Homo sapiens: one gene and its partners. The protein of the gene in region 3 interacts with the protein of the main gene of each other region in a biochemical or structural test. Each region holds a gene or a part of one and is shown on either strand. Other genes may lie near its edges.

Region 1 (7,025 bases), on a different chromosome or scaffold from region 3:
TTTAAGGAGATACTAATACTTTATTTTCACATCCCCTCCAGGTTTGCATATAGTTCGGCTGCTATGCCTATTAAAGGTTCACTGATGTCCATAGTTAGGTTTTTGAATGAAATATTCTTTAGAAAATGCTTTCATTTCTTATTGCCTCCCCCCAGCGCCCCCACCCCCGCTTCAATTCACTATTGCTCAGAAGATTTACATTAAAATGAAGTTTATCTTTGGGAAATTGAGATGTTCCTGCCACTGTGATTGTCTGCTGGGATATATGATGTTGTCCCTGTTACATCGCATCTCTCTACTCTTAAAAAACATACTGATGCATGTCATTAAAGTACTTTATTTCTTCATTCAGAGAATAAAAATTACTGAGAGGGAAAATAGCTAGGATCGGTATTTCTAAAGGAAAAAAAAAACCTGGAGAAAGGTTATTACTAATAAAGCAAAGAGAGACAGAATGATCTCTTTGAAAAGCAATCTATTTTAGTATATATGACATAGCAACAACTTGGAATTTTATGGAAATGAAGGCGCTCCCTAGCCCTATTAGATAATGTCCTCTTGGGGTTGCCTAGGTTTGCGTGGCAGCTGCAGTTTCTTCTCAGACTAATAAAAAGTGGAAATTAATGAGAGAGTGACTTTAGCTGGGGTAGGAAAAGCAAGCTACACTATTCTGTATACTGCTTTGGCTAGCCTGGGGTGGTGATGAGGTAGGGATATATATACATTGAGGAGAGAGGATTTTTTTTAAAGCTCTATTGAAAAACTCTTAGATACATTGCTCCTCCAAAGCCACATAATAAAAAGCTCTGAGTTTTTTTATTAAACAACAGAGTAGACATTCTGCTTTAGAGATTTTTGTTTGTGGACTCATATACATGGTGACCTTTTCCACTTCCTTCTTATTTTTAGCATCCAATTACCGTTCTCTAAATGAATGCTTAATTCTTCAGTTTGGTATTACCCACAGTTTTATTCGGCTGCTGCTTTAGGCAATAAAAAGTATTTGCAGTTCGGTTTATTAATTTGTGTACTGTTTCCTCTGCTACACACATTGTCACTTGTTCACTCTTTCATATAGTATTGAGCAGGGTATCTTTTTTCCTTTGGCTTATCATAACCTCAGTAAAACACCTTTACAAGGAGATCACTAAGCTGCTCTTTATCTATAGTTTTTGTCTGAAAAACCAAGAAGGATAAAACAGACAGTATATCTCAGAATGAAAAACGTGCCTCATTTTGGTGAACTGTAGCCTGTTCATTCCTGTTGTAAGAACATTTCCTTATTTCCATTTAATTTTGTATTCAAAACAATAGTGACAAATAATTCTATTGTGGTGTTTTAGAAGGATCACTGCACGCCTGGTTTAAAATGCAAACCAGGCCAGGCGCAGTGGCTTACTCCTGTAATCCCAACACTTTTGGAGGCCAAGGTGGGTGGACCACCTGAGGTCAGGAGTTCGAGACCAGCCTGGCCAACATGGTGAAACCCCACCTCTACTAAAAATACAAAAATTAGCCGGGCGTGGTGGGGCCCACCTGTAATCCCACCTACTCAGAAGGCTGAGGCAGGAGAATTGCTTGAACACAGGAGGCGGAGGTTGCAGTGAGCCAAGTTCGCGCCACTGCACTCCCAGCCTGGGTGACAGAGCAAGACTCTGTTTCAAAAAAAAAAAAAAAAGCAAACCAGGAGACAGGAAATCCAGATTACGATAGCTCTTGCTACTTTACTTATATCCTTGAGTTGGACATTTTTGTGGGTTTGGAAGTAATTAATTAAATAATTTTTATGAAATATGCTGATAAGTTAATACTTAACACTACAATGTAATTCTGTTTCGCGGCAGGTGGCCCGACGTTGGGGCATTCAGAAAAACAGGCCAGCTATGAACTATGATAAACTTAGCCGTTCACTCCGCTATTACTATGAGAAAGGAATTATGCAAAAGGTGAGCAGCTAATACAGCATTAAAATTCATTGAAATGTTGCACATTAATCTGAACATCATACTTTAAACGCCACATATCATTGCATTGCTGAAGCGAGTTTTTCACTCATTTTAACAAATGCTTAGCTCTTGGTTTTGGTATTACAAGCCTTTCTATGTATAAATGCCTAGACATTGTAGACAAATGTGTAGTGATATTGTATACAGAATAATAGGCTTTCTGGAAGGTCCTACTTTGCTGCACATGGTTAAAAAAGATTGTTTTAGTATTAATAGCACATCTGTCTTCAGAAGTTTTTATTGCACATTGTCTACAATTATATAATTTTGGAATGCTTTTGTTTATAGCAATAAAGAATCTTTAGAATAAATTTGTACTTTTTTCTTGTTTTGATTCTTAAAACAGACATTTCTTTTTCTCATTTGTGAAAACATTTTCTTCCTTGCCTCAAATCTTGCCTAGTTTTATCATCTGATAGTTTGACATCCTAAACCATTCATTAAAAATGAACATTTGATCTTATTTGGTTTGTGGAAGTTCAATATATTTTATTTCAAATGAGCTTCCCATAATATTTGAAAGTAGCTTTTTGTTTGTTTGTTTGTTTTGAGACAGATTCTAGCTCTGTCGCCTAGGGTAGAGTGCAGTGGCGTGATCTTGGTTCACTGCAACCTCAGTCCCCCAGGTTCAAGCAGTTCTCCTGCCTCAGCCTCCTAAGTTGCTGGGACTACAGGTGCGCACCACCACACCCAGCTAATTTTTGTGTTCTTAGAAGAGATGGCGTTTCGCCATATTGGCCAGGCTGGTCTTGAACTCCTGACCTCAGGTGATCTGCCTGCCTTGGCCTCCAAGGGGCTAGGATTACAAGCATGAGCCAATGCACCCAGCCAAGAGTAGCTTTTTAAAAAAGAGTAGAGAAAAAACAAGTGAATTACACTTAAAATAAAATACAACATTTTTGAAGAAAGGAATAAATAAATGAATGAAGATAAAACGTGGATATTTGTTTTTATTACACCCTTTAGCTTTGCAAGTGTACAGAAATCTAATTGCTTTGACTGTGAACCAAGTTTATGATTTACCTATTGTGAACGTTACAGTTTTATTTTGTATCATTTGTTTATTTTAGGGTTTGTAAACATAGTTACATGTTATAGATTGTGGCACATTTTTATGTCACCATAGTTTTACCCAGAAAAACTAGACCAGTTGCTACATGAAGCTTATTAGAGCAGCGAAAAATAGCACTGTTGACTTTCCTAGAACATTGTCTATTGACAAGAGGCATATTATCTCAGTGCCCTAGAATTTGCTGGCTCAGACGTTAGAACTTCCATGATCCTTAAAAGAAAAGGCTGACTTCGATTTTCAGTTGCTTCCTGTTTTCTCAATCATGCCTTCAAAATGTATAACAGTTTACTACCTGCTCCTCCTGTCTTTTTCATCTCAACCCTGGGGTCATTTCTAATTCCTCCCTTTCTCTCACCTACCTTTTTGTAGTAAGATCCTTCAAATACATTCCATTCCTTTCTTTTCACCACCATCTTCCTAATGCGGGGGCACATTGCCTGGGCTGTCACAGATGGTGCTCAGCAGTGTCCCCGGGCAGTATTGCACAGCAGTAACAGATAAGGCAGTCAGGAATTAGGTTTGAATGCTAGCCTCTCACCAGATTACATTCTTGAACAGATTATTTTCCTAGTAAATGGTGATATTCTTGCCTCATTAAAGTTGCTGTGATTATTAAATGAAATAATGTACTTGAGATACTTTACATTGTAACTGGCACAATGTAAAGTATATCTGAACTCCTGGGCTCCAGCAATCCTCCTGCCTCAGCCTCCTGAGTAGCTGGAACTACAGGTTTGCATCACTGCACCCAGCTAATCACATTCTCGGATATGTACCATTCTGATGTTCAAGTAAATTCTAGTATAGTCATTCAGAGGAAAACTATGCTGTCCTTTTTTAAATAGCAAAAACTATGATGTTGAATTATATATTTTAACATGTAGGAGAAAATATTTATATGGCTATATTTGTTCACTAACTTAAAACTTTGTGGGCATATGTGGTGTATATAATATAGAAAATTAGAAGATTAGAGAAAAATAAAAATAACTTACATCTGAACATGTTAAAAAAATTGAAAACTGGTAATTAATTTTAGTAATACGGAAGAAGTAAGAAACAATGGAACAGTGTATGTTTACCTTACAGACAATGCCTATGTGTACTTCTATTTCAAAATTAGGAAATGCCTAGAACAATATATACCAATATGTTAATGGTGATTATATTCTGGATGATATAATTATAGACCCTTTGTTTTAACTTAATTGATAATTTCTAATTTATCCTTCAGTATCCCCATATTACTTCTGAAATTTTAAGAGATAAAACATAATTTGAATATCCAGCCATTGAAAGCACAGCTCTAAAGCTATCTCCTTGTTTACTTTTGATTTATCTCCCTGGAAAAATTCCTGTTTTTTCTGTCTGTCTCAGTGTTGCATTTTGGCTATACTTAATGTACAGCATTTTGCACGTTAGTACTTCTGTTACTCATAATGGAAGACATCATTCCCCTTGGTTGGTTATCATCCCTTGTTCTAAACTCAGTAGCATTTAACATAGTCCAGCAAATGAAGTAGTAGCCCTAAAAATGTTTATTCAAAAGCAATACAGAAGGAAGCAGTGAGGAAAGGCAGAGTCCTTGAGAGATTGCATAAGCTTGATTGCATGTTACACATTTTAATTCATTTATTACATAATTTTTAAGTATAGCCAGTAGCAACCCGTCAAAGGAAGTCCAGTACTTAAAGCAAATGTATCTTCCTCCACAGCCCCAAACAAAACAAAGCACATTATAAAACACTCAGAGGTATGCAGGCCATTTATTTTATTTTATTTTTTCTCCAAATACTTTGAACAAAGAAAAAAATAAAGGAAAACTAGGATTTACTATCTCAGCTTTGTTCCTGATAGTGCTATTTTTATGTTTATGGTCATTTCATCATTTCACCTTTAAGATCTTAATTTTCTTTGTATGAAGGACTAAAGTAAATAAATGTATGCCAGACTCCTCTGTTTCTGGCACAGTGCTCTGTGCTGGAGACTTCCATCCCAACCTTGCAATGGGCTTTCTGAGGCGCCATTCCTGTCTCCATTTCACAGCAAAGGCCACTGAGAGGTAGTCTAAGAAACAGGTCCAAATTCATAAAAACTACTAAATGTTCATTCTTTCAAACCTAGGTACATTCAGATTATTTGAATTCTCTAAAGTGGTTCCTCTTACTTAAATTCAGGGCAAAAGAAACAAAAAATGTTCTAAATTTGAATTCAGAGCAGCAGCATTCATTGACAATTGTTACTTTTCCCTCAAAGATATAACAATACTTTATAACCCAGGAACACACTGTTGCCCCACATCAAAAATCAACTAGCAAATGCCTTGTTGATATACAGGAACATGGAGGTGTTGTGTCACCTTCAGCTTTCTAAAATCTCATACCTTTACACACACCCATACAAAGTGACTATCAAAGTTAATAGAAAGAACTGTATTCATCCACCCATCCCCCCACCCCGGGTTTTGAGAGCATCTCAGCATTGTCTATTAACAAGAGGCGTATTCATCTCACTCAGTTGTTTATAATTTTCTAGGGAAGCATTACTCTTCAGAATTTAAGTTTGGGGTATGTCATACCCTATAAATTATGCTACTTCTTTATTCCAGGCAGTTGTCACATTTCTTTTTCTCATTTCCTCCCTGTGCATTGTGTATTTTAAATTCCTTTCACTTTTTTACACCTCTTACTTCAATTTGACACTTTACACACATCCTTAACTCTGTCTAATGCATCTTGCCTTCATTTTTAAAAGTGATGTACCCAGGATACTGTCCTTTTGATCCATCTTTCATTTAAATGAGGCTGTGTATCCTTTCTTTCTTTCTTTCTTTCTTTCTTTCTTTCTTTCTTTCTTTCTTTCCTTTCTTTCTTTTTCTTTTTCTTTCTCTCTCCTTTCTTTCTTTCTCTCTCTCTTTTCTTTCTTTCTTTATTTCTTTCCTTTCTTTCTTCTTTCAACACACACTGCCAAAAAAGAAAAAAAGTAAAGAATCCATTTATTCTGTGAATCAGTGAATTACTAGTCTAGTCTTATTGGGAATAAAGCACATTTTTCTTTTAAATTTTGAATTTAGTTTTTCTACCATTTCAGATATGTAATATTAAGAGGGACAGTGTACCTTAAAAGTACAGATTTGTAGATACTACCTTTTAAAATGCAGAAAAAAAGCTTTCAATATGAAATGCCTGCATTAAATAATTGACTTTTTTTCAAAACAACGATGTAAGTTTACCTCTATATTAAGACAAGCAAATTCCTGTGCTTCCTAGCTATATCTGGAATTAATTAATTATTATTCAAGGTCAACATTTTGCATCTCCCTTGACTGAACTGTAGTTTATTCCACAAAGTAAAGACTTTTTTTTTTTTATGTGTATCTGCTATTAGTTGTTTGCTTTTTTGGGCCAGAGTTACCCATCCTTTCCTGTATATTAAACCACGTTTTTGGCTTTTTCCTTCCTGTCCTTCCCCATCTGGCGATGGTGAGGATGGGTTTTTCTCTTCCATGTTATCATCAGGTGGCTGGAGAGAGATATGTCTACAAGTTTGTGTGTGATCCAGAAGCCCTTTTCTCCATGGCCTTTCCAGATAATCAGCGTCCACTGCTGAAGACAGACATGGAACGTCACATCAACGAGGAGGACACAGTGCCTCTTTCTCACTTTGATGAGAGCATGGCCTACATGCCGGAAGGGGGCTGCTGCAACCCCCACCCCTACAACGAAGGCTACGTGTATTAACACAAGTGACAGTCAAGCAGGGCGTTTTTGCGCTTTTCCTTTTTTCTGCAAGATACAGAGAATTGCTGAATCTTTGTTTTATTTCTGTTGTTTGTATTTTATTTTTAAATAATAATACACAAAAAGGGGCTTTTCCTGTTGCATTATTCTATGGTCTGCCATGGACTGTGCACTTTATTTGAGGGTGGGTGGGAGTAATCTAAACAT
Region 2 (7,306 bases), on a different chromosome or scaffold from region 3:
GCTTCATCCAGGAGATGACTCTAGTTTCACTATAAAAGACCCTTCAACTTTTTTCACGTTAGACTGAAGTGTTTGGTCAGATTTCCTCAGTATGACAAAGGTTACTCTTTTTTTTTTTTTTTTTTTTTGAGATGGAGTCTCGCTCTGGCTCTGTCGCCCAGGCTGGAGTGCAGTGGTGTGATCTCGGCTCACTGCAAGCTCCACCTCCCGGGTTCATGTCGTTCTCCTGCCTCAGCTTCCCGAGTAGCTGGGACTACAGGCGCCCACCACCACGCCCGGCTAATTTTTGTATTTTTAGTAGAGACGGGTTTTCACCGTGTTAGCCAGGATGTTCTCGATCTCCTGACCTCATGATCCACCCGCTTCGGCCTCCCAAAGTGCTGGGATTACAGGCGTGAGCCACTGAGCCTACTTTCTTACCCAGGCTTCCAAAAAGGCTGGAGTTTCCACAGAGATTTATTACTATATGCATCTCATCAAAGGGCTAAGATACTTCTTGACTGTGTATATCAGTACCATGTGGCTGTTTTGGTTCATTTGTACATTTTTGGTTTGCAGTGACATGTCATCAAGGGCCTAAGAACAGAAATTCATTCTGTCTATGTTTTATGAGTTTAGGGGCCTGGAAAATTGCAAGCAACACCCATGCTTCAGGGAGGCCCCAGGACTCAGGAAAGGGGGCAGTCTGTGAGTCCTCCCAGTTTCCCAGCTAATCAATGAAGTGAACAGTGCAAGGCTGTGGAAAAGATGTTCTCTCTGACTTGGGACATGTATAATTTGTTGCACCTGAGACATGTGTAGGAGTTAATGTGGTCAGAGCTCAGAAGTTACAGATTTTGGAGTCATCAGCAAATAGTGATATCTGAAGCCCTGGGCGTGGAGGAGAACACCCAAAGATAAAGCATGTAGAATGAGAAAATAAGAGGGTTGAGGATAGAATGCCTGGAAACACCATAATTTAGGGGGCTGGCAGCAGACGAGGAACCGGCCAAGAACTAGAATAGGACAGCAGGCTGTCACATGGGCATCGTGGAGAGCAGCCTGCACAGTCAGCATTCTTAAATCCTACACACAGACAGAGGAGATGCGGATTGGAAACGGTCCCTTAGAAAGATCACTAGAAGGAAATACATAAAAATATCCACAGGTCTATTCCTGACTAGTGAGATGTCAGGTGGCTTATGTTCTTCTCTCACCATTCTTGCATCTTCCAAATTCTGTACAAGAAACATTAATTACATTTATATTAAAAAGCTATTAAAATATAAAACAAGGCTCTGATCAAGTCTAAAATATTTTATGAGAGCCTGATGAAAAGAGCAAGTAATTATTAATTCACAAGTATTTCAGTGCCTGTGTGCTGGGCACCATGCTAAAGATAAAACAATGAACAAGAGGACAGCTCTGTTGTTTGACAAAAAGGAGCGGAGGCTGGTTTGGCAAGGGAGGGATGTAGGGCTTGTGGGACACAATGGCAGGAGATGAGGCTGGAAAGGTCGTTTGGTGCCAGATTACAATGGACTTTATGTGTCTTGTCAAATAATATGGTCTTTATTCTGAAGGCTACAGAGAGGCTTTTGAGGGGGGCAGTGTTAGGTTTGGAATTGTGCTTTACCTGAAGTTAATTTTCGACTGGATTTTGGCAGTAGTGTGGCTGCTGGCCTGGGGGAGTCCAAGCAGGAGACCAGGAGCACAGGCAGCAGGCAAGTGCAGTAACTGAATGAAGGCAGTGCCCTGAGCACGGGCCAGGCCCAGAGATATTTAGGGGTAGCGTCAATAGGATATGACTGATTGGATGTATGTTGCACGAAGTAGGGCATTAAGAAAAAAAAGGAACAACAAACTTCTTCCTGCTTATCAAAGACCATAATGAGGGCAATGGCCTTTCCTGAAACACGTTCCTTGGGAAGTCAAGCATGAGCATCACAATAGTTTGGAAGCTATCTGCACCCAGCAAGTGAGTTTCCAGTTAGCCTCACGCATGGCAATAGGTGCTTAGGATGCAGGATGCAGGTTCGTGGCCCCGGCCCTGTCTGGCTCCCCTGAAATCACACCACAGAGGCAGCTGCCTTTCGTAAACACAAGGCAGGCAGTGTTAGCTGGTCCAACTAGACCTCATTCTTTCTTTCACCTGGGGCCTGTGCACGGAGGCTGCTGACATGAGTGGACTCCCACGTGTGTGGTGAACGAGAAGTTCAAAGTGACACTTTGCATTCTTCCCTTCTTCTCCACTCTCCTCTTCCCGCTCCAGGAAAAATAAAGGAAGATGATTGTTTTGGTACAGGAAAAAAAAAATGAATACTAGGTTTTTAACTTGTGTCCCGGGTTGGGTAAAGAATGACAACTATTCTATAGTTTGTATAGACTTTCCCTTAGTGGTCATTGCTATATGACATAAGAAAGTCAGTGCCTGGGCCAGGCACTGTCACAGGCCTGTAGTCCCAGCTACTTGGGAGGTTGAAGCAGGAGGATCGCTTAAGGCCAGGAGTTCAAGGTTACAGTAAGCTATGATAGCACAACCTGAGTGACAGAGCAAGACCCTCTCTTTTTTTTTTTTTTTTTTTTTTGAGACAGAGTTTCGCTCTTGTTGCCCAGGCTGGAGTGCAATGGCACAATCTCGGCTCACCACAACCTGCGCCTCCTGGGTTCAAGCAATTCTCCTGCCTCAGCCTCCCAAGTAGCTGGGATTAGAGGCATGCGCCACCAAACCTGGCTAATTTTGTATTTTTAGTAGAGATGGAGTTTCTCCATGTTGGTCAGGCTGGTCACAAACTCCCGACCTCAGGTGATCCTCCTGCCTTGGCCTCCCAAAATGCTGGGATTACAGGCATGAGCCACTGCACCCGGCCTACCCTGTCTCTTAAAAAAAAAAAAAAGTGAGTATTATAATAGAGGGGATAAGGAATAATGTGTATGTGAGGTCTATTTCTGAGACCAGAGCCACAAAACAGAATCCTGCACCTTAGCCATTTTCTTACCACACGCGTTTTCTTGGATACTTCCATTTTTCCAGTCTATATAATTCAATACTTCTGTGACAGAGAGGTGTTGGAGTTTTTTGTTTTGCTTTTGTTTTTTCGCAACTCTTTACATACAAACAGCTATGGTCTCCCAGGAAGGAACTTCCTCTGTTGAGTACAGAAGTCTGGGAAAAGACTGGTGAAATTGCATGCGAGGAAGAAACAGGTCTAACTAAATGTGAATCTATACTTTTAAAGCAAGGGACCACAAAGGGTAGGTCCCAAGGAAGTTGCATTGCTTGCTGCACTTGTCACACGGGCTGTACTTTCTTCTCTCATTTATTTCCATTTACAGCGTTGAAAACTGAGGCCTTAGGCTTTGGTTGAAAACCGAGGCCAAGGGTGACCAGCCAGTGAGTTAAGGAGGCCCCAGCCGAACTTTGCTGGAAGTGCTCCAGCATAAAGCCTCTCTCCAGAACCAGCCGCCACTGAGACGTCTTGAAGTCAAAGTAACTCACACCCTTGTCCACCTCGCCCTGCGGTGAAGAAACTTCGGTCGCACAGGCTCCAGAACTCATCTTGGCGTGGGCTGTGACTTACTGGGGGATGGGCCTCCTTTTCGTTCTAGCTCCTAAATGGAGCGGAGCGCCAGGTGGTGTCAGAGGGGGCGGCGGCCCCTCCAATGGTGGCACCCTCAGCCACGGATAAGGTTCCAATTAGGTAAGGACGCAAGTAATGCTGTCGTTTCGGCTGACTGCTCCTTTCATTCCTTGGAGGTGGTCGGTGTCACAAAACGAATTTTCATTTACTCTCAACAGTCACACCAGCCCTGCTAACTGGATGGTCGCAGCCCCGTGCCTTCGCCGGACGCCCTCCTGGAACCTTCAGGCCACCCTGAGGATGGAGACTCGGGTGCCCGCTCTCCTCCCCTACCGCCGCGGGCCTGCGCCCCCCGCCCCGGACCCCGACTCGGACGTTCTAGCCGCACGTGCGGGCGCCCCTGGGTGCGAGCCGCGGACTCACGAGCCGCTGCTTGTTGCTCCCGCCGCCGCGACCTGGGGAAGCGAAAATGAAATTGACTTTTCCGAGAAATGATGAAAGCGGCGCTGCCCGCCAATGAGCTGCTGCGGCGAACTTCCGCACCTCCCGGCCGGGCCGCTCGCGCCCTCCCTCCGCCTCCACCTCCCGGTTGCACAAGCTTGAAACAAACACTGGGGAGGAAGGGCGGAGGGAGGAGGGCGGAGAGGGGAGGCGAGGGAGGGAGCGCGGCCGGAGGAGGGCGGGGGGTGGGGGGATTTCCAGCCGCGGCTCTTCGCAGTTTCCTCTCCTTGTTTTGCTTTCGATCTGGACTGTTCTCAGGCAAGCCGGGGAGTAACTTTTAGTTTTGCTCCTGCGATTATTCAACTGACGGGCTTTCATTTCCATTTCACATACCCTAGCAACACTTATACCTTGCGGAATTGTATTGGTAGCGTGAAAAAAGCACACTGAGAGGTAACATTTTTCAAATAATAGTTGTGACTGTGTGTGTTTCTCTCGAGGGCATGTTTCTGGGGACTGTGGGGGGCCGTGTGTGTATGCGTGTCCTGATGCCTTGACACGATGTTTTGCAGACGGAAAATGCCGGGGTTCATAAATATTAATACTGATTTTTGGAGGAACAGTCGGCGCAATTATGGATCATCTGATTTTAGGGGAAGCAGGTTCTGCTGCTGTTGCTGCTGCTACTGGGGCTGCTGAGGCTGCGAGGAGGAGGAGGAGGAGGAGGTAGAGAGGGAGGAGGAGGAGGAGGTTGGTGGAGGTTTAATTTCACTTTTGGATTTGCAGATGCGGAGAGGTGGCTCCATGGACACAGACCTGCTGTGTGTGCTTCTGCGCCCCAGGTGTTGTGTGTGGGGGTGCAGGTCAGCTGGAGTCGGGCCTCATTTAAAACAAAATTGTGTGTATGTGCGTGTTTGTGTGTGCGCGCGTGTGTGTGTGTGCAGCCACCGCCGCCACCGGATCCGAAGGAGGGGAGCGGGTCCTTCTCGGTGCCCGCGGCGGCGCCTCTCCAGGCTGCCTCCAGCGTAAATAAGCAGGCACCGCTCCCCGGCCGGGAGGAGCGCCTCCAGCCACGGCCAGAGGAAACTTGCTGGGGCGCCCCGCGGCGGTCCAGGGGCTCGCCTGCCTGCCGGGCTCGGGGTCGGGTCGCGGGCGTCGGGTGCCAGCGGCCGGGGCGGGAGGGCGGGCTCGGAGCCGGGCCGGGCGCCGGGCCTGGCCGACGCGCCCTGCTTCCTGGGGGCTGGGCCGCCGCCGCCGCCGCTCAGAAGGGACGCCGCGTCCTCCTTCCCGCCGGCCAGCGCCCGGTCGGGCCCTGGGGCTTTGTCATTGCACTTGTCCCAGCGCGCCAGGGGCTCGGGCGGCGCGTCCCAGGAAGGCACCGTGCCGAGGGGTCAGCCGCCCGGGCCGCGGCCTAGCGCCGTGCGCCCCCGGGTCCCCGCAGGCGCCCCCGGCCGGCCTCGCGCGCTGGGCCTGACCCGCCTCGGCTACGGAGCGGGCGAGGTGGGGGCGGGGAGCCTCCGGGGACCGAGCGGCGCAGTGGGGGCCGGCGTCCCCTCGGGGTCCCGGGGCGCGGGCCGCGGCGGGGTGGGGACGCGAGTGCCCGCCCCGTGCCCTCCGACCCGGCTCCGGGCGCCGGGTGACATTCGCCCGCTGGCCGAACATGGTTGGTGCAAAGCCGCGGCGGCCGCCACTTCCTTTCCGCCTCGCCGGTAGGGCTCGCCCACCGAGTGAAGCCGGCCGCGGCCAATCGCGGCGCCCGCCTGCTCCCAGTGGCACGGCCTGGGGGCCGGCGTCCGCCGGGGCTGGGGAAGCCGTTCCAAGTTCCAAGGGTCGCGGGTGTAACTCATGCCCCTCCCAGCACGCGCCGGCGTCTCCCCTTGGCCCCCGGTCTGGGTGCGTTTGCCACCCTCTCCTCCTTGTTCCCTAAGAAGCGGGGGAGGGGAAGGAGGCGGGCAGCCTGGGCAGGGCGCCAGAGCCGTGGTCGGGCACCAGGTGAAACGCCCGGGTCAGTCTGTGTAGGCCGGACCCTTGGCGCTCGGCTGCGGATGTGATCCCGGGGACTGGCGGCCGAGGTAGCTCAGAAGAGCGAGGTGGCTTTCGCTCGTTTCTGACCCGCTACTGTCTGAAACTTGGGGACATATTGCCCGCCCCCTCCCTCTTCAACCTCCTCCCTCCGGTTGCTCCTTGTCCTTGGTTATGGAAGGAAAAAACTCAGTTGTTCTAAATGAGGAAAAGTGGTGCTGGCATTCGTCTTCAGCCACCGGCCTCCTTATGGCTGTGACTCGGTCTGCTTTTGATGAATGGCCAGGAGGTATGGAGGATAGTTAGATTTCCTGTTGTGGATTTTCAGGCATCACCGAGACTGCTGTCAAGCCTGCAGTCATTTACTAGTTTTCATATCGACTGCAGGTTCTCTTTGAGCAGTTCAGTTTTTGGTGCTTAAGGGCAGGTGCACAACGGGGTCTGGGGTTAGACCAGGCGGTGGATAGTCTTGATGCTAGGCAGATGCAGTTATCCCTACCAGGCCCAGAGGGTGACTCTGTTTAACTTCACCACGCACGCAGATTCAGGATTCTCTGATTTCCCCAACTTTCCTTTATTCTTCTTTTAGTGGGAGAAGGGGCAAAAGTAGAAACCTAAAAAATCCTGGGAAAAGGAGCCTTTTCTGAGGAAACTTCAGCAGATGAAATATTTAAGACTTGAACTGGGATCTCTAGGGGGAACGTTGGAACATCTATTGATTGATGTGTCAAAGTCCGGAATTTCACTGTAATTAGTGAACGATTATAACTTGTAACTTTGTCTGTTATGTAAGAAATTACATTTTGGTCTCTTAGATCCAAGAGTTCTTGTCTGTTACGATTTGTAACTGCTTGTTAAAATTAAACATTTACATATTTCATTCTCAGTGAGTTGTCATTTTTTTGTTAGAGAAAGTTCCAGTTATTTCAGATTTACTTACCTGTAAAAATGTCAGCATAATCAAAAGTAAGGATCTGTAGTCAAACTGGAAGCAAATTATGGCAAACACATGCGTGCCATGAAGTTCTGACAGCCTTATGAACAATGGTCCCACTTTTATCCCACTTTCTGAAACACTTTATTAGGCAAATAGTGCACCAGAGCAAAAGATGTTTAAACTTACTGGAAAAATAGACACTTTGGATGCTCCACATTTGATGTGCATCAATTTTCTCATGTTACCAACGATGTTATATTTTTATTCTTAACATCATCTCGTACAAAACTGTTGTTTTTAGAGCATTTTCACATAATATCCTTTTGATAGTGAAAAACCACTGTAC
Region 3 (7,025 bases):
ATTTTGGACCCCGAATTGCGCCCAGGAAGTCCCGCAGATGTGTGGCAGTTTTTGTTCCTGGAAAAGGTGTTCATGCTGAAGATCTTCCCCAGTTCCAAGACAGGGCTTTTGGTGGCATGGGGTTATTCCCCGGACTTCAGTCTCCTCCACCACAGACTCAAGGAACCCACAGGGGGTTTTCCAGGAAAGTCTCAGGTCCCAGGAACCTCACGGGAACACAGGTGCCACTGCTTAAGGTCATGGCTTTGAAGAGGAAGGGCCACCGTGTGCCTGGACAAGTTCTAGTGTGTGAGGAATGTCAGCCCTGTGACTCTGCTGTCACACCTTGGCCATGTGACAAGGCTGTGTGAGTGTGTGTGTGTGAGACAGAGAGAGAGACTGTGGGCAGCCAGGGAGCTCAGGAACCCGTGGGAGGTTTTTTTCTTTTCTTTTTTCTTTTTTTTTCTTTTTGAGACGGAGTCTCGCTCCGTCGCCCAGGCTGGAGTGCAGTGGCGCAATCTCGGCTCACTGCAGCCTCCGCCTCCTGGGTTCACACCATTCTCCTGCCTCAGCCTCCTGAGTAGCTGGGACTACAGGCACCCGCCACCACGCCCAGCTAATTTTTTTGTATTTTACTAGAGACGGGGTTTCACTGTGTTAGCCAGGATGGTCTTGATCTCCTGACCTCGTTATCCACCCACCTCGGCCTCCCAAAGTGCTGGGATTACAGGCGTGAGCCACTGCGCCCGGCCGAGTTTTTTTTTTTTTGAGGCAGAGTCTCACTCTGTCGCCAGGCTGGAGTGCAGTGGCGCAATCTCGGCTCACTGCTACCTCCACCTCTCGGGTTCAAGCGATTCTCCTGCCTCAGCCTCCTGAGTAGCTGGGATTACGGCACCTACCACCACGCCCAGCTAATATTTTGTATTTTAGTAGAGATGGGATTTCACCACGTTGGCCAGGATGGTCTCAATCTCCTGACCTCATGATCCGCCCGCCTCCGCCTCCCAAAATGCTGGGTTTACAGGCGTGAGCCACCGCGCGCGGCCCTGGCTGGGAGGTTTTAACAGGATAGGAGGGGAATCAACTTTCCCTGAGGGCCGGCTCTGGTGCGAGGTGTTTTACAAATGTGTACTCATTCGTATCTTCCCAATAACTGTGATCCCCATTTTACAGGCAACTCAACTGAGGTTAGAGAGGCCACATATGTGCCTGAGGTCACACAGCAAGTAAATGGCAGAGCCAGGATTAGACGCTCGGTCTGTGTGACTGCACAGGAATCAGGATGGAATTGCTGAGAACACGAGCTTTGCTTCAGCCCTGAGTCCTGGCTGTGACCCGGATGCTTTTGACCTTGGGCATGCTATGTAGCCGCTCGAAGCCTCAGTGTCCTCATCTATAAAATGCAGGCCTAGAGTAACCATGCAGGTGGCGAGGGTTAAACGAGATGGTTAGGCCCCATATGGCCTGGCAGTATTATTTAATGTTACTATAACCTTTTCCTGCCCTGCCCAACCCTGAGCTCACCCCATACTGCCTGGCTGTCCCCCACAGACCATTACTGGGACTTCCACCCCCACCACGTGCACAGCGAGTTCGAGAGCTTCGCCGAGAACAACTTCACGGAGCTCCAGAGCGTGCAGCCCCCGCAGCTGCAGCAGCTCTACCGCCACATGGAGCTGGAGCAGATGCACGTCCTCGATACCCCCATGGTGCCACCCCATCCCAGTCTTGGCCACCAGGTGCATGCCACCGCCTGCCCCGTCCCCCAGGAGACTGCCAGGCCTGTGGTGGGGCCCGGGAGCTTCACAGGAAGCTGACACAGGCTCTTACCCAACTCAGCTTCCTGCCCCACAGTGCCAACGGCGGCTGGAGCTCCAACGGCTGCCGCCTGACCCCCCAAGTGACCTCATGACCCCACACCCCTTATCTCATCTCACCCCGAGTATGGACAGACCCCAGATAATTCTCGCACCCTCACCAAGCCTCCCCATCCCAACGCCTTGTTGTGGGCCCTCCTGGGCCTCACTGTCTGCCACCCCCATTCACTAGCCCTCATGGATCCCACACCAAGTCACTGAACACCTCTACTGACCCTGCCTCTCCCCAGTGACCCTCCCTACTGACCCTAACCCGGATCAGTGACCTCTGCTGACCTCTACCACCCCTACTGACCTCCAGGGTCCCTCCACTCACTCATCATCCCACCTATGAAACCCCCTTCCAGACCCAACGCACCGGTCCCTAGCATGCCCTCTTCTGACCCCAGCCTAATGCGGGTCCACACAGCACCGCTGCAGGGAGGAGAACAAGGCACCACTTCCCCGGTGCCCACAGTCCTAAACCAGGAGGCCCAGCTGGGAGGGCTGGGTGGGCTGGATGTCAGCACCCCTCGCCCCACAGCCTGCACCCTATGTGCAGCACCTCAACTGGCCCCCCTTTTCCCTGGTCTTCTTCCTCCAGTCTCCTGTGCCTGCCATTGTCCCCTGCCCTCTGCACTCCTTCTCTCCCCAGCTGACCTCCCTCCCAGCCCCCCTGAGCTGTAAGCTGGCCCTTCCTGACTCTGATCTCCTTCCCCCACCGTCCAGGTCTCCTACCTGCCCCGGATGTGCCTCCAGTACCCATCCCTGTCCCCAGCCCAGCCCAGCTCAGATGAGGAGGAGGGCGAGCGGCAGAGCCCCCCACTGGAGGTGTCTGACGGCGAGGCGGATGGCCTGGAGCCCGGGCCTGGGCTCCTGCCTGGGGAGACAGGTGGGGCACCTGGCCCTCCACCCTGGCCCCGACCCTGGCCGTGTCTGTGCCCTGCCCCCACCCAGCCAGGCCAACTGACCCAGCAGCCACGCCACCGAGTCGCGTGTGTGTGTGTGTGCATGTTTGCCAGTGTGTGTGTTTTGTGGGGCTGTCTGTGGCTGTCTCTGTGTGTGTGTATCTGCTGTGTAGTGCATACGGGCATCTCCATGAAGTGTGCCAGGTGTGTGTGTCTCTCTGTGCCATGAGTGTGTGTACATCTGGGTGTGTGTGAGCAAGTGTGCAGAGGGTGCGTGTGCACAGGTACGGGCAGGTGCATGTGTGCGAGTGGCTGTGTGAGTGGGTGTGTGAGAAGGTGAATGTGAGAGCTGGTGTGGCTGAGAGTGGGTGTGGCCATGTTTGTGTGTCTGTCAACACATGAATGTATTTCAGTGCGTGTGAGCAGCTGTGCACGTATGATGTCAGTGGGTGTCAGCAGTGTGTGGGTGTGCCTGTGTGAGCAGGGATGTGAGCATGGTATATGTGAGTGGCTGTAAGCAGGCATGTGTGAGTGATATGTGTGAGTGGGGGTGTGACAGCAGGTGTGTGAGCAAGTGTATATGTGTGAATGTGTATGTAAGCAGGGATGTGTGTGATATAAGTGTGTGTGAATGGGCATAGGTGTGTGTCAGTGGATGTGTGAGTGGGTGTGAACATGTTTGAGGGTGTATGTAAGCAGGTGTGTGTGAGCAGGAAGGTGTGAGCTGGGGTGTGTGAGCATGTATGTGTATATGTGAGCAGGTCTGTGCATGTATGTGAGTGGATATGTGTTTTAACATGTGTAAGCATGTGTGTGTTCCCATGTGTGAGCAGGTGTGTGTGGGGGGTGAGGACGTGCTTAAGCACCTGCGTGTGTGAGCAGGTGTGCATGTGTGTGAACAGGTATGTGTATGTGTGAAAGCAGGTGTGTGAATGAGTGTGTGAGCATGAATGGGTGTGAGTGGGCCGGGCGTGGTGGCTCACGCCTGTATCCCAGCACTTTGGGAGGCTGAGGCAGGCGGATCACCTGAGGTCAGGTGTTCGAGACCAGCCTGGCCAACATGGCGAAACCCCGTCTCCACTAAAAATACAAAAATTAGTCAGGCGTGGTGGTGAACGCCTGTAATCCCAGCTACTTGGAAGGCTGAGACAGGAGAATTGCTTGAACCCGGGAGGTGGAGGTTGCAGTGAGCCGAGATCGTGCCATTGCACTCCAGCCTGGGCAACAAGAGCAACTCCATCTCAAAAACAAGAGAATGGGTGTGATGTGTGAGTGTGAGAGCAGGTGTGTGTGAGCATGCATGAGTGTGAGCTGCTGTGAGTGGATGTGAGAGCAGAATGTGTGTGAGCATTTGAGTGTGCAAGTAGGTGTCTGAGTGGTTGTGTGTGAACAGGCGTGTAAGCATGCAAGTGGATATGCATGAGCAGAATGTATGTGCATGCGTGAGCAGGTGTGAGGTGCAAGTGTAAGTGGTGTGAAATATGAGTGAGCAGGTGTCAATGAGGTGTGAAAGAGCTGGTGTGAGCGTGTGAGTGATAAGTGAGCAGCTGTGAGGTGTGAGCATGTATGTGAGCAGGTATGTGTGATGTGTGAGCATATGTGTGAGCATGTGTGTGTGCAGATATGTGTGGGCAGGTGTGTGTGAGTGGGTGTGAGATGTGAGCATGTGTGTGAGGTATGAGGTGTGAGCATGTGTGAGGTGTGAGCATGTGAGTGGGTGTGAATGTGTGAGGTGTTAGCATGTGTGAAGTGTTAGCATGTGTGTGAGCATGAGTTTGTAAGCATAAGTGTGTGTGAGACTTGGTGTGAGGTGTGTGAGGAAGTGTGTGTATGGATAGGTGAGCATGTGTGTGAGCAGACGTGAGCATGTGTGAGTGGGTGTGTGCGTGAGTGAATGGTGTGAGGTGTGTGAGCACAAGTGTGTGAGCAGGGGCGTGTGTGTGTAGCTGAGTAATGTGAGATGTGTGTGAGCAGGTGTGTGCGTGTGGGGCTGAGTAACGTGAGATGTGTGTAAGCAGGTGTGTGCGTGCAAGTGTGTGTGAGGTGTGGGTAGGTGCGATCATATGTGAGTGGATATGTGTGAGTGAATGGTGTGGTGTAAGCATGTGTGTGTGAGCAGGGGCATGTGTGTGCAAGGGTGAGCAATGTAAGGTGTGAGGGTGAGCAGTGTAAGATGTGTAAGCAGGTGTGTTTGTGCAAGCATGTGTAAGCAAGTATAAGCAGGTGTGATTATGAGACCTGGTGTGAGGTGTATGAGCAGGTGTGTGAACATGAGTGTGTGAACCTGGTGTGAGGTGTGTGTGAGCAGGTGTGAGTGGGCATATGAGTGTGAGAAGGTGCATTGGGTGTGACCGTGTGTGGGGGCAGTAAGTGGGTCTGAGTGTGTGTGCATGTGTGTGAGTGGGTGCATTGGGTGGGTGTGAGTGTGCATGTGAGTGGGTGTGAATGAGGTGTGAGCATGAGTGGGTGTGACCAGGTGTGTGTGAGTGGGTTGTGAATGTGTAAGCAGATGCAGTGTGGGTTTGAACATGTGGGTGGGTGCAAGCATGTGAGTGGGTGTGTCGTGTGGGTGCCAGTGTGTGGGGGCATGTTAGTGAATGAGTGTGTGAGCATGTGTGTGAGTGTGAGCTGGTGCATTGTGTGGGTGTGTGAGAAAGTGACAGTGTGTGAGGGCAGATGTGGGTGTGAATGTGCAAGTGGGTGGGTGTGGGTGCAATCTGGCGTTTGGGTGCATTGCACAAGCATGTGTGTGAGCATGTGGGTGTGAGTCTGTGAGCACGTGCATTGTGTGTGCATGTGTGTGACAGCATGTGTGTGATCAGATACATTGTACGTGTGAGCGTGTGTGGGTGTGAGCATGAGTGAGTGGTTGCATTGTGTTTAAGCATGAGTGTGAGTGGGTGTGAGAAGGTGCGTTGTGTGAGCACGTGTGTGAGTGGGTGTGGGCGTGATGTGTGAGCATGTGTAAGGAGGTGTGGGTGCGTTATGTGGATGTGAGCATGTGTGTGTACTTGGTGCACTGTGTGGGTGCGAGTGTGTGCGCGTGGGGGGGGTGAGTGCGTGGGTGTGAGTGGGTGTGTGTGAACGCCTGTGTGTGCGCAAGCATGTGTGTGTGTGTGAGTGTGGGTGCGTTGTGTATGCACGCCCGGCGCGGGCTGGGGCAGCCGTTCCCCTGCCCTTCCCGGCCACCCCGTCCCCGGGCCCCTGTGCGTACGCAAGGCGGTGGGGGCGGCTCCCATGTGGGCCCCGGGCCCCCTCCCACCGGGCCCTCCCCCCCGCAGGCAGCAAGAAGAAGATCCGCCTGTACCAGTTCCTGTTGGACCTGCTCCGCAGCGGCGACATGAAGGACAGCATCTGGTGGGTGGACAAGGACAAGGGCACCTTCCAGTTCTCGTCCAAGCACAAGGAGGCGCTGGCGCACCGCTGGGGCATCCAGAAGGGCAACCGCAAGAAGATGACCTACCAGAAGATGGCGCGCGCGCTGCGCAACTACGGCAAGACGGGCGAGGTCAAGAAGGTGAAGAAGAAGCTCACCTACCAGTTCAGCGGCGAAGTGCTGGGCCGCGGGGGCCTGGCCGAGCGGCGCCACCCGCCCCACTGAGCCCGCAGCCCCCGCCGGGCCCCGCCAGGCCTCCCCGCTGGCCATAGCATTAAGCCCTCGCCCGGCCCGGACACAGGGAGGACGCTCCCGGGGCCCAGAGGCAGGACTGTGGCGGGCCGGGCCTCGCCTCACCCGCCCCCTCCCCCCACTCCAGGCCCCCTCCACATCCCGCTTCGCCTCCCTCCAGGACTCCACCCCGGCTCCCGGACGCCAGCTGGGCGTCAGACCCCACCGGGGCAACCTTGCAGAGGACGACCCGGGGTACTGCCTTGGGAGTCTCAAGTCCGTATGTAAATCAGATCTCCCCTCTCACCCCTCCCACCCATTAACCTCCTCCCAAAAAACAAGTAAAGTTATTCTCAATCCATCCTCTTGCAGCACAGAGTCTCTTTTAAAATTTGTTGTGTATCTCTTTTGGCCCCTGTGTGCTGCGACGTCTCTTTTTGTCATTTGTCCATCGGGTGTTTACCGAGGACTGTACCCAATGCTGGACCCTGGGAACATGAGGACCAATGACACAGAGCGCCTGAACAGGAGTTAGAGTTTGGTGGAAAGAACAAGTCCTCAATTGTGATTAGGAGAGCAGATCCTATTTAAAAGCTCTCTACTCCTGATAGTTGTTGTTTTTAAGCCTTGATGAGGTTTGAACTCATGATGATGATGATGATGATGATGATGACC
Region 4 (7,025 bases), on a different chromosome or scaffold from region 3:
TTTCTCGTTCGGACTCTGGCACCAACCAGCTATGGAACCCTGGGCAAGTGAACCTCTCTGGTGCCCTAAGGTAGAGAAATGTCTAAAAATCACTCCAGCCAAATATTCGGCTCTTCCTTTCTAGCAGTTTAAAAATATTTATAATTATAGATTTTAAAAAATAAAGTTATATAATTTTTAGATGCCAACTGAAACTATACAGAACTATATATATACATAACTCTATATAACTCTATGACACAGCACATAAAACTTACAAAGCATCATATAGAACAATGTCTCATAGTTCATATGTCTCAGGGTTCACTTATTTTTTAAACAGATTTATTCACATCTGTAATACAATTATTTCTTTGTTTTGAATACAACCTGGAGGGAAGCATATGGGAGACACAGCCTTTATTTAAAAAAATGAAGTAATGATATGGAATGATTGACAGTTGGATAGAATTTTCATTGTCGGCACTTCTACTTCTTTATATGACCCTGCACCTTTCACAGTGCTAATATTTGTTTAAGGTTGCTTAACGTTGTTCCTCTCCTCTAGAACTTTGGAAGTAAAAGCCATTCTCATCTTTAGAAACAGTAGATTCAATAATAATAAATAATAATAAACTAGAAGCCTGAGTTTCTGTTCCTACCTGTCAGTCAATGCCTAAATAATTTCATTTTCACCCATTCACCCATTCATTACATGAAAGGGGCTGGGATAAGAGAGAACACTCCTGAAGGGGAGGACTACTTTTTCTCCTCCTTTTAGTTCCTACCCACTCTTGCATGGGTTTTATACACATATGTGGTTTCAGATTTTATGAATTCTATACTTTCAAAGTGGGTGAATGTCAAGTTCAGCTGTGACTGTTACCGAGCTGGATGAAGCTGCCCAGATGCAGCCTGCAGATGGTGTGGAATGAGGGGCTCAGTGCACAGAGTTCAAAGTGCAAACAGAAGCTGTGTAAGAAAGTGCAGCAAACTGTGGTTGGTGTTAAAACTGCTCCTGAAAAAAATGGCACTCAAACCAATGTATCTTAGTTGACCTAAACTCTCTTTTGCACATTCTGGGGCAGTAATAAGAAACAAACATTGATAGCTATACATATTATAAAATTTTGCACAGTAAAAGGGGAAGTGCTTCTCTCTTGAGCAATGAGTGCCACTCTGACATTTTTTGTCTCCCTTAAAAAACTCACCTAGGATGGGCCGGGTGCAGTGGCTCATACCTGTAATCCCAGCATTTTGGGAGGCTGAGGCGGGCAGATCACGAGGTCGGGAGATCGAAACCATCCTGGCCAACATGGTGAAAACCTGTCTCTACTAAAAATACAAAAATTAGCCGGGCGTGGTGGCACACACCTGTAATCCCAGCTACTCAGGAGGCTGAGGCAGGAGAATGGCTGAACGTGGGAGGCGGAGATTGCAGTGAGCTGAGATGGGGCCACTGCACTCCAGCCTGGTGACAGAGCTAGTAGACTCCATCCAAAAAAAAAAAAAAAAAAAAAAACCAACAACAAAAACTCACCCACAATGGAATGTGACTATGGAATACCCTGCGGTGTGTTCAGAGCTCTGACTTCTGTTTGCTCTTTTTAACATAACCCCCATCTGGCAAGCTGACTGCTGCAAGATTTTCTGGGTCTTTCTTTAGGATCTACTAACAATGAAAAACATATATATGAAAACCTACACATTTTCAGAAGCACATGAGAGCTGATCAAGACCCACGTACCTCCCAAGGAGAGGAGATGACAGAGGCTGCTCTGTGGTGTTGCTCTCAGGCTATATTTGATTTATTGCTCAAATCTTATTATTTCATTCTCCATTCGAGACTAGCAAAGTTTCTTTTGAGAAGTCACAGTCTCTACGGAGGGTATTCTAACGCCCAGAAGTAAAAGTTGGATGTTGGCAAAGAAAGCAAAGTAGAATCTTTGCAAAATGTTGGAGCTGCATAGTTCTCTCTCCCAATGGACATGTTTCAAGACTGAATACGTTGAGTATTTGATTTAGAATCAATTTAACATGAACTTCGCATTTATGCAAAGCAGCATCAGTCCTGAGATCAGCAGAGCGATTGAGCAAGCCCAACTAGCAAACTGAGATTTCTATTTGTGATGACCTTTCCCATTTGAGGCCCCAAAAATGTCTTGGGGAACTCATTGTTTAAAAAGAAGTCCATCAAAAAATGGACACATATGGACCATGGCATGGGAGGGCAGTGCTGCATACAAAATCAACAATTCTCTAAATGAACACCGATCTTGCAGAAAAACAAAATGAAAGCAAAACAAAAAGAAATTTCTAATTTCAAGAGAAAAACTGAATAACAACTTTCTTTTCATTCATCCTTTCTTTCTTCTTTTTCTTTCTTTCTTTTTTTTTTTTTTTTTAACGAAGCAATGACTTTCTCAGGGAGAAAGATTTGCATCCATGCTGAGGAAATAGACAGGGCCAGTAATCACACAGCAACAATCATCTGTAACTTGCAGAAATTCAATGTATGAATAAGTGTTTAAAGCCTAGATAGAGGGCAATTATCTGGTTATCTGTTTTTCATATTTCTATCAGAGATAAAAACCTCTTTAGGGAAATTTATGAAGGGCCATTTGAAAGAAGGTTTCCCTCTTTTGTAGAAAAGAATTCTCTTAAAAATTAAAACAAATTTGGGAGGCTGGGGGATTTTTGAGAGTTTAAAAGAGTGAGGAAGATGGGGGGCGGGAAGCAACTATTTCCAGCTGCGAGAAACCGATCAACCTCACAGCAAGGTGTGGTGGCTCTGATGCAAGCAACATTCCCATAGATACAGGGCTGTCTGGTTTTCTATTGCTCATTCTAACTTGAGGAGACGCTCAAGTGTGATTTGGGGCTTTGACACTGAAAATAGGTGTGAACTTGGATCCATTTAACCTAGCCCCTTCCCCCACCTCATCCCTTCTCCTGTCCAGTTTGCTTTCAATGGGTCAACAATAAATATTCACCCTTGGCATCCATCTGCAACTTCCAAGAGGGAATGAAGGAAGAACATAAAGTTTCTCTGCATTTGTTTCCAAAGCCCAGCTGGCACAGAAAACAAATGATACAAGATATGACTGGGAAGGCACACAGCCTGTCTTTGTCACCAGGTCTGGCAGATGTGGCTCTGGGTTCACGAGACATCTGCTCCCAGCTACCTTCCTCTCTGCTTCCCTCCACTCTCCAGGCTGGAAAGTGACAACTCCATTGTCCTCAGTTCCCTCCAGCCAGAGGCCTGTGACCTAGTTGTGGCCTAAGCAATATGTCAGCGAAAGTTTGCAGAGAAGGGCTTCCCTTCCTGAATAAAAATACCAGGACCCACAAGAAGGGGTTGAGGCCTCCCATGTCCTTTCTGCCTGGACAGATCAGAGGTGCAGGCCATCTCTCCCTGGCCTCAGCATGGTGGGACCAAAACATAGGAGTGTCCTGCACCCCACCGTATCAGCCTGGACTGCTCACTCTGGAACTCCTGCCCGTCTGCTCAAGCCACTGTGGTCAGCTTTTCTCTACGTGCAGCCAAACATAATTTTCATGGGTAAACCTGAGCAAGGGCCTTACTCTTTCTGTCACTGCAATAAAATACATAATTTCCGTCATGTTTCGGATTTAGTGTTTATTCCTCCACCTTGGCTCCTTTCTGGCATCATTACTCAGTGTTATTGCAAGATGAGGGAGGGAGAGAAAGAGAGAGATTCAGAGAGCCAAGAGAGTATAACACGTGTCTCCCCAACAAAGAGTGAAGCCTGCGCAAGTGAGAGCAGTGTGTCTGAGCTTATCCTCCCAGCATGTTGAAGGTGACAGGAGGTTTTGAGCCCTGTTTTGTGTTCAAGAGCCAGCCTGTGTTCTCGTAAAGTACTCCCTGATTGTGTTCACGGTCAGCAAAGATCTCAAAGGAAATGCTCCCTTTTTACCACTCCAGGACATCCTAGTTATTATATTTTATGAGAGGGAAGAGGTCAAGAAAGACATACCTCTTTGCCTTGGCTGGAGGCTCAGCAAAAAGGCTAAAGAAGGGGACTGGTGGCATCTGATGGGGAGGAGCAGGGGAGGCCGAGAAACAAGAGTTGTGGGAAAAGTGCTTTGAACATTTTAATATCTGTTCAGGCACCAGTGTAGCTTCTGAAGATTTCTTGAAAAATGGGAGTTGGAGAAAGCAATTACGAAAATGAGGGAAAATATCTTGCATTTGTGAAATGATGGGAGAACTATTTTCTAAACAGAAAATAAAATATTTTTAAGTGGCTTTGTGTTATTAAGCTAAGAAGATTTGTGATGTGTTTTATGGTACCTCTTTCTGATGCATGTAAAGACTTCCAACAGGAACTTGGTAATTTAGATGCAAGCTTGTCTAGAATATTATTAGCCCATTTTGCAGAACTCAAATGAGACACAAAGACATCTATTGACTCATCTAGGTCACTAGGAAGTTACCTGAGAAACTGAAAATTTGCTTGAGTTTCCTGTGTGGGCCTCCTCTGCTGCCTCCAACAAGACAAGCCATCAAAGCTACCTTCATGTCTGGGCTTTGACAAAGTACATGATTACAAATGTTCCCAAGGAGCAGGGAAAATGGGAGTCTCTCAGAGGCCCAGAGAACCTGCTCAAAGGTATACAGGCAAAATGGCCTTTTCCTTAAGAAGAGCCTTGGAGAAAATAAAGCTACACCAGCAGTCTCAATGAAAAGAGACATCTCTGTTGTCCTTGTGTGTTCAGATCAAAGACTTAGCATGACATCCTGCCCCAACTAGCCTCCATATTTAAAATCAAAACTTGTTAAGTTGAATTTCATAAAGGGCTCTCGTTCTTTTTCCACAAGGGAAGGAAGGCTGACCTGCTGGTGAAAAGCCCTTAGGGTGGACTGAGTTACCCACTGCTGTCCATGCCCATGTGGGATCCTGCAGCTCTAACTTTGCCCAGGCTGTACTCTCGGCCTAGACCACTCTTCCTTCTTTCCTTTGTTCCCAACTTCCCCTCCCCCAACTCCTGTGTCCCTCTCTCCAGGGAGCCTCCTGTAATGTCCTCCAGGGCATTGTGACCTCTCCCTCCCTAGAGCAGACAGCGGTTGACTGGCTGCCTTCTTAGATAACTGAACATTGATAGCCACCATTCAGATTTATTGCTTACTTTATATGGCTGGGCAAAGCACCTTACACAGATTAATTCGGTCCACACAGCTACCTTAATAACAGGTACTATTGCAATCCTTACTCTGCAGATGAGGAAACTAAGGCTCAAGAGAGAAGTTCTATATGCTATTTGATGAAAGCCAGAAAAAAGAAAAGAAAGAAAAGGCCATCACTGTGTCATCTGAGCACATTCCCTGCACAGACCTCCTGCCATTGCTTTCTCTAATAGCAGGTGCTCTTATGCCTCCAGACTCTTCTCTCTAGGCCTTGGGCTCCTTATTAAAGTCTGTGTGTGCACAGCGGCTGTGCAGCCGTCCTCTGTCCCAGCATCTCACCAGGCTTGATTTCTCAGTAAAGGGCTACATATTTTCTGAGCACATCTTTCGGATCTATTTTGAGAGAATGTAGGAACGTCTCAGCTACTCATTTGCTTTCAAAAGCTCAGAAAGGCTTCTTGCCATTCAGAATCGGGTCAGTTGCTGTTTCCAAAGGTGCTTCTGCTACTGGTTGCTCCATGCCCCTGTACTCGGTGTGTGAGCAGCTGTGGGGCCTCCTACAGCCCCCTAAACCCCACTAATAAAGTCAGTCTGAAGTACAAAGACAATCCTCCCCAAGAAAGCAGAGCCAAGAGGAGGTTTCTTTGGGGCGGCTGCCATTTGCTCTTTTAACACTTAAACATTTCAAAATTACTCGTCATTTTCTACAGTTTCTTAGCGTGCAAAAAGTCTAAATGGCAAAGGCATGATTGTGAGTTTAGATAGTTTTATCACACCTTTTTTTTTTATAGTTTCAAAATGTGTGGGCAGTTTCAGATGTGAAACTCCATCTCACAAAGGAGGAACTACAGTCTGATTCTTTAACATCCAAGAGAGCAGCCAGGATGCCCCATCCCACAGTTTCCTTGTGGGCCAGGGTGGGTCAGATTTGCTAAGACCCACTGTTAGGGACTGCAGTATGTCTCCCTAGAATTAATACATTGAAGTCCTAACCCCAAGGTGCTCATAATTTGACACTATTTGGACATAGGGTTTTAAAATGACGTCATTAGGCTAGCCCCAATACAATGCAATTGGTATCCTTATAAGAAGAGATTAGGATACAGACACACACAGAGGGATAACCATGTGATGAAACAGGGAGAAGGGAGCTGTCTGCAAAACCAAGGAGAGAGGCCTCACCAGAAATCAGCCTTGCCGACACCTTGATCTCACACCTCCAGTCTCCCTCCAGAACTGTGTGAAAATAAATTTCTGTGGCTTAAGCCTGAAGTCTTAAGATCTTAAGTGTTCAGTCAAGCCAGAAGAAGTGTCTTAATAAATATTCTTCTGAAAAGAGCGGCAAGCCGATGCTTAGAGAAGAACATACTTTATACATGCAGCTTTGTACTTGGCAATTCCCTTTGAAAGACTGCTTCAGTGGGGTAAACTTGAACCGCTGAGAAGACAAGCAGGGAGTCGGTCTCGCTGAGATTTTTACCTGTGGTTCTAGGAACGCAGAGGCATGTGAGTGTTCAGGCTTTGCATAGACCACTAAGCCACTTCTAAGAACAAGGCTACCTGAGCCATTTTGCAAAAATATGTACGTGCCGAGGCTTTTCCTCCCCACACCTACCTCAACTCTTTCTGCCGACACACTGCACTTTTCAAGGGAACCCAAGTTTGGGTTCGGCAAGAATTGTACGTTGCACACCGTGTGTGATAATTCCAGGGAATTTCAATCGCATCTTGTCTTCCTTCCTAAGCAAATTCGGTGGGAACCTGGTGTGGTGTGATAGAAAAAGCCCCGAGTTCTCTGTGGTAGACCACATCAATTTCATGTGCCAGTCTCTCAGACTCCGGCTTGCCTCTCTCAAGGAAGGGAACAATGGTTTGCTTGGCTTCACTCCTCTCTTTC

The links.
Region 1: the proteins of SPI1 (region 3) and ETV1 form a complex in vitro, tested with the Homo sapiens proteins (one study listed by BioGRID).
Region 2: the proteins of SPI1 (region 3) and IRF2 form a complex in vitro, tested with the Homo sapiens proteins (one study listed by BioGRID).
Region 4: the proteins of SPI1 (region 3) and RUNX1 form a complex in vitro, tested with the Homo sapiens proteins (one study listed by BioGRID).

The regions. Positions count from the first base shown.
Region 1 is NC_000007.14:13,895,659-13,902,683, reverse strand, and holds part of ETV1 (ETS translocation variant 1), read left to right. Parts: intron 1-1,844; coding exon 1,845-1,946; intron 1,947-6,596; coding exon 6,597-6,818; 3' UTR 6,819-7,025. UniProt on the Homo sapiens protein: Transcriptional activator that binds to DNA sequences containing the consensus pentanucleotide 5'-CGGA[AT]-3'. Required for olfactory dopaminergic neuron differentiation; may directly activate expression of tyrosine hydroxylase (TH).
Region 2 is NC_000004.12:184,471,527-184,478,832, reverse strand, and holds the start of IRF2 (interferon regulatory factor 2), read left to right. Parts: upstream 1-4,282; 5' UTR 4,283-4,454; intron 4,455-7,306. UniProt on the Homo sapiens protein: Specifically binds to the upstream regulatory region of type I IFN and IFN-inducible MHC class I genes (the interferon consensus sequence (ICS)) and represses those genes. Also acts as an activator for several genes including H4 and IL7.
Region 3 is NC_000011.10:47,354,546-47,361,570, reverse strand, and holds the end of SPI1 (transcription factor PU.1), read left to right. Parts: intron 1-1,530; coding exon 1,531-1,718; intron 1,719-2,564; coding exon 2,565-2,727; intron 2,728-6,024; coding exon 6,025-6,344; 3' UTR 6,345-6,711; downstream 6,712-7,025. UniProt on the Homo sapiens protein: Pioneer transcription factor, which controls hematopoietic cell fate by decompacting stem cell heterochromatin and allowing other transcription factors to enter otherwise inaccessible genomic sites.
Region 4 is NC_000021.9:35,039,294-35,046,318, forward strand, and holds part of RUNX1 (runt-related transcription factor 1), read right to left. Parts: intron 134-7,025; exon of another isoform or gene 1-133.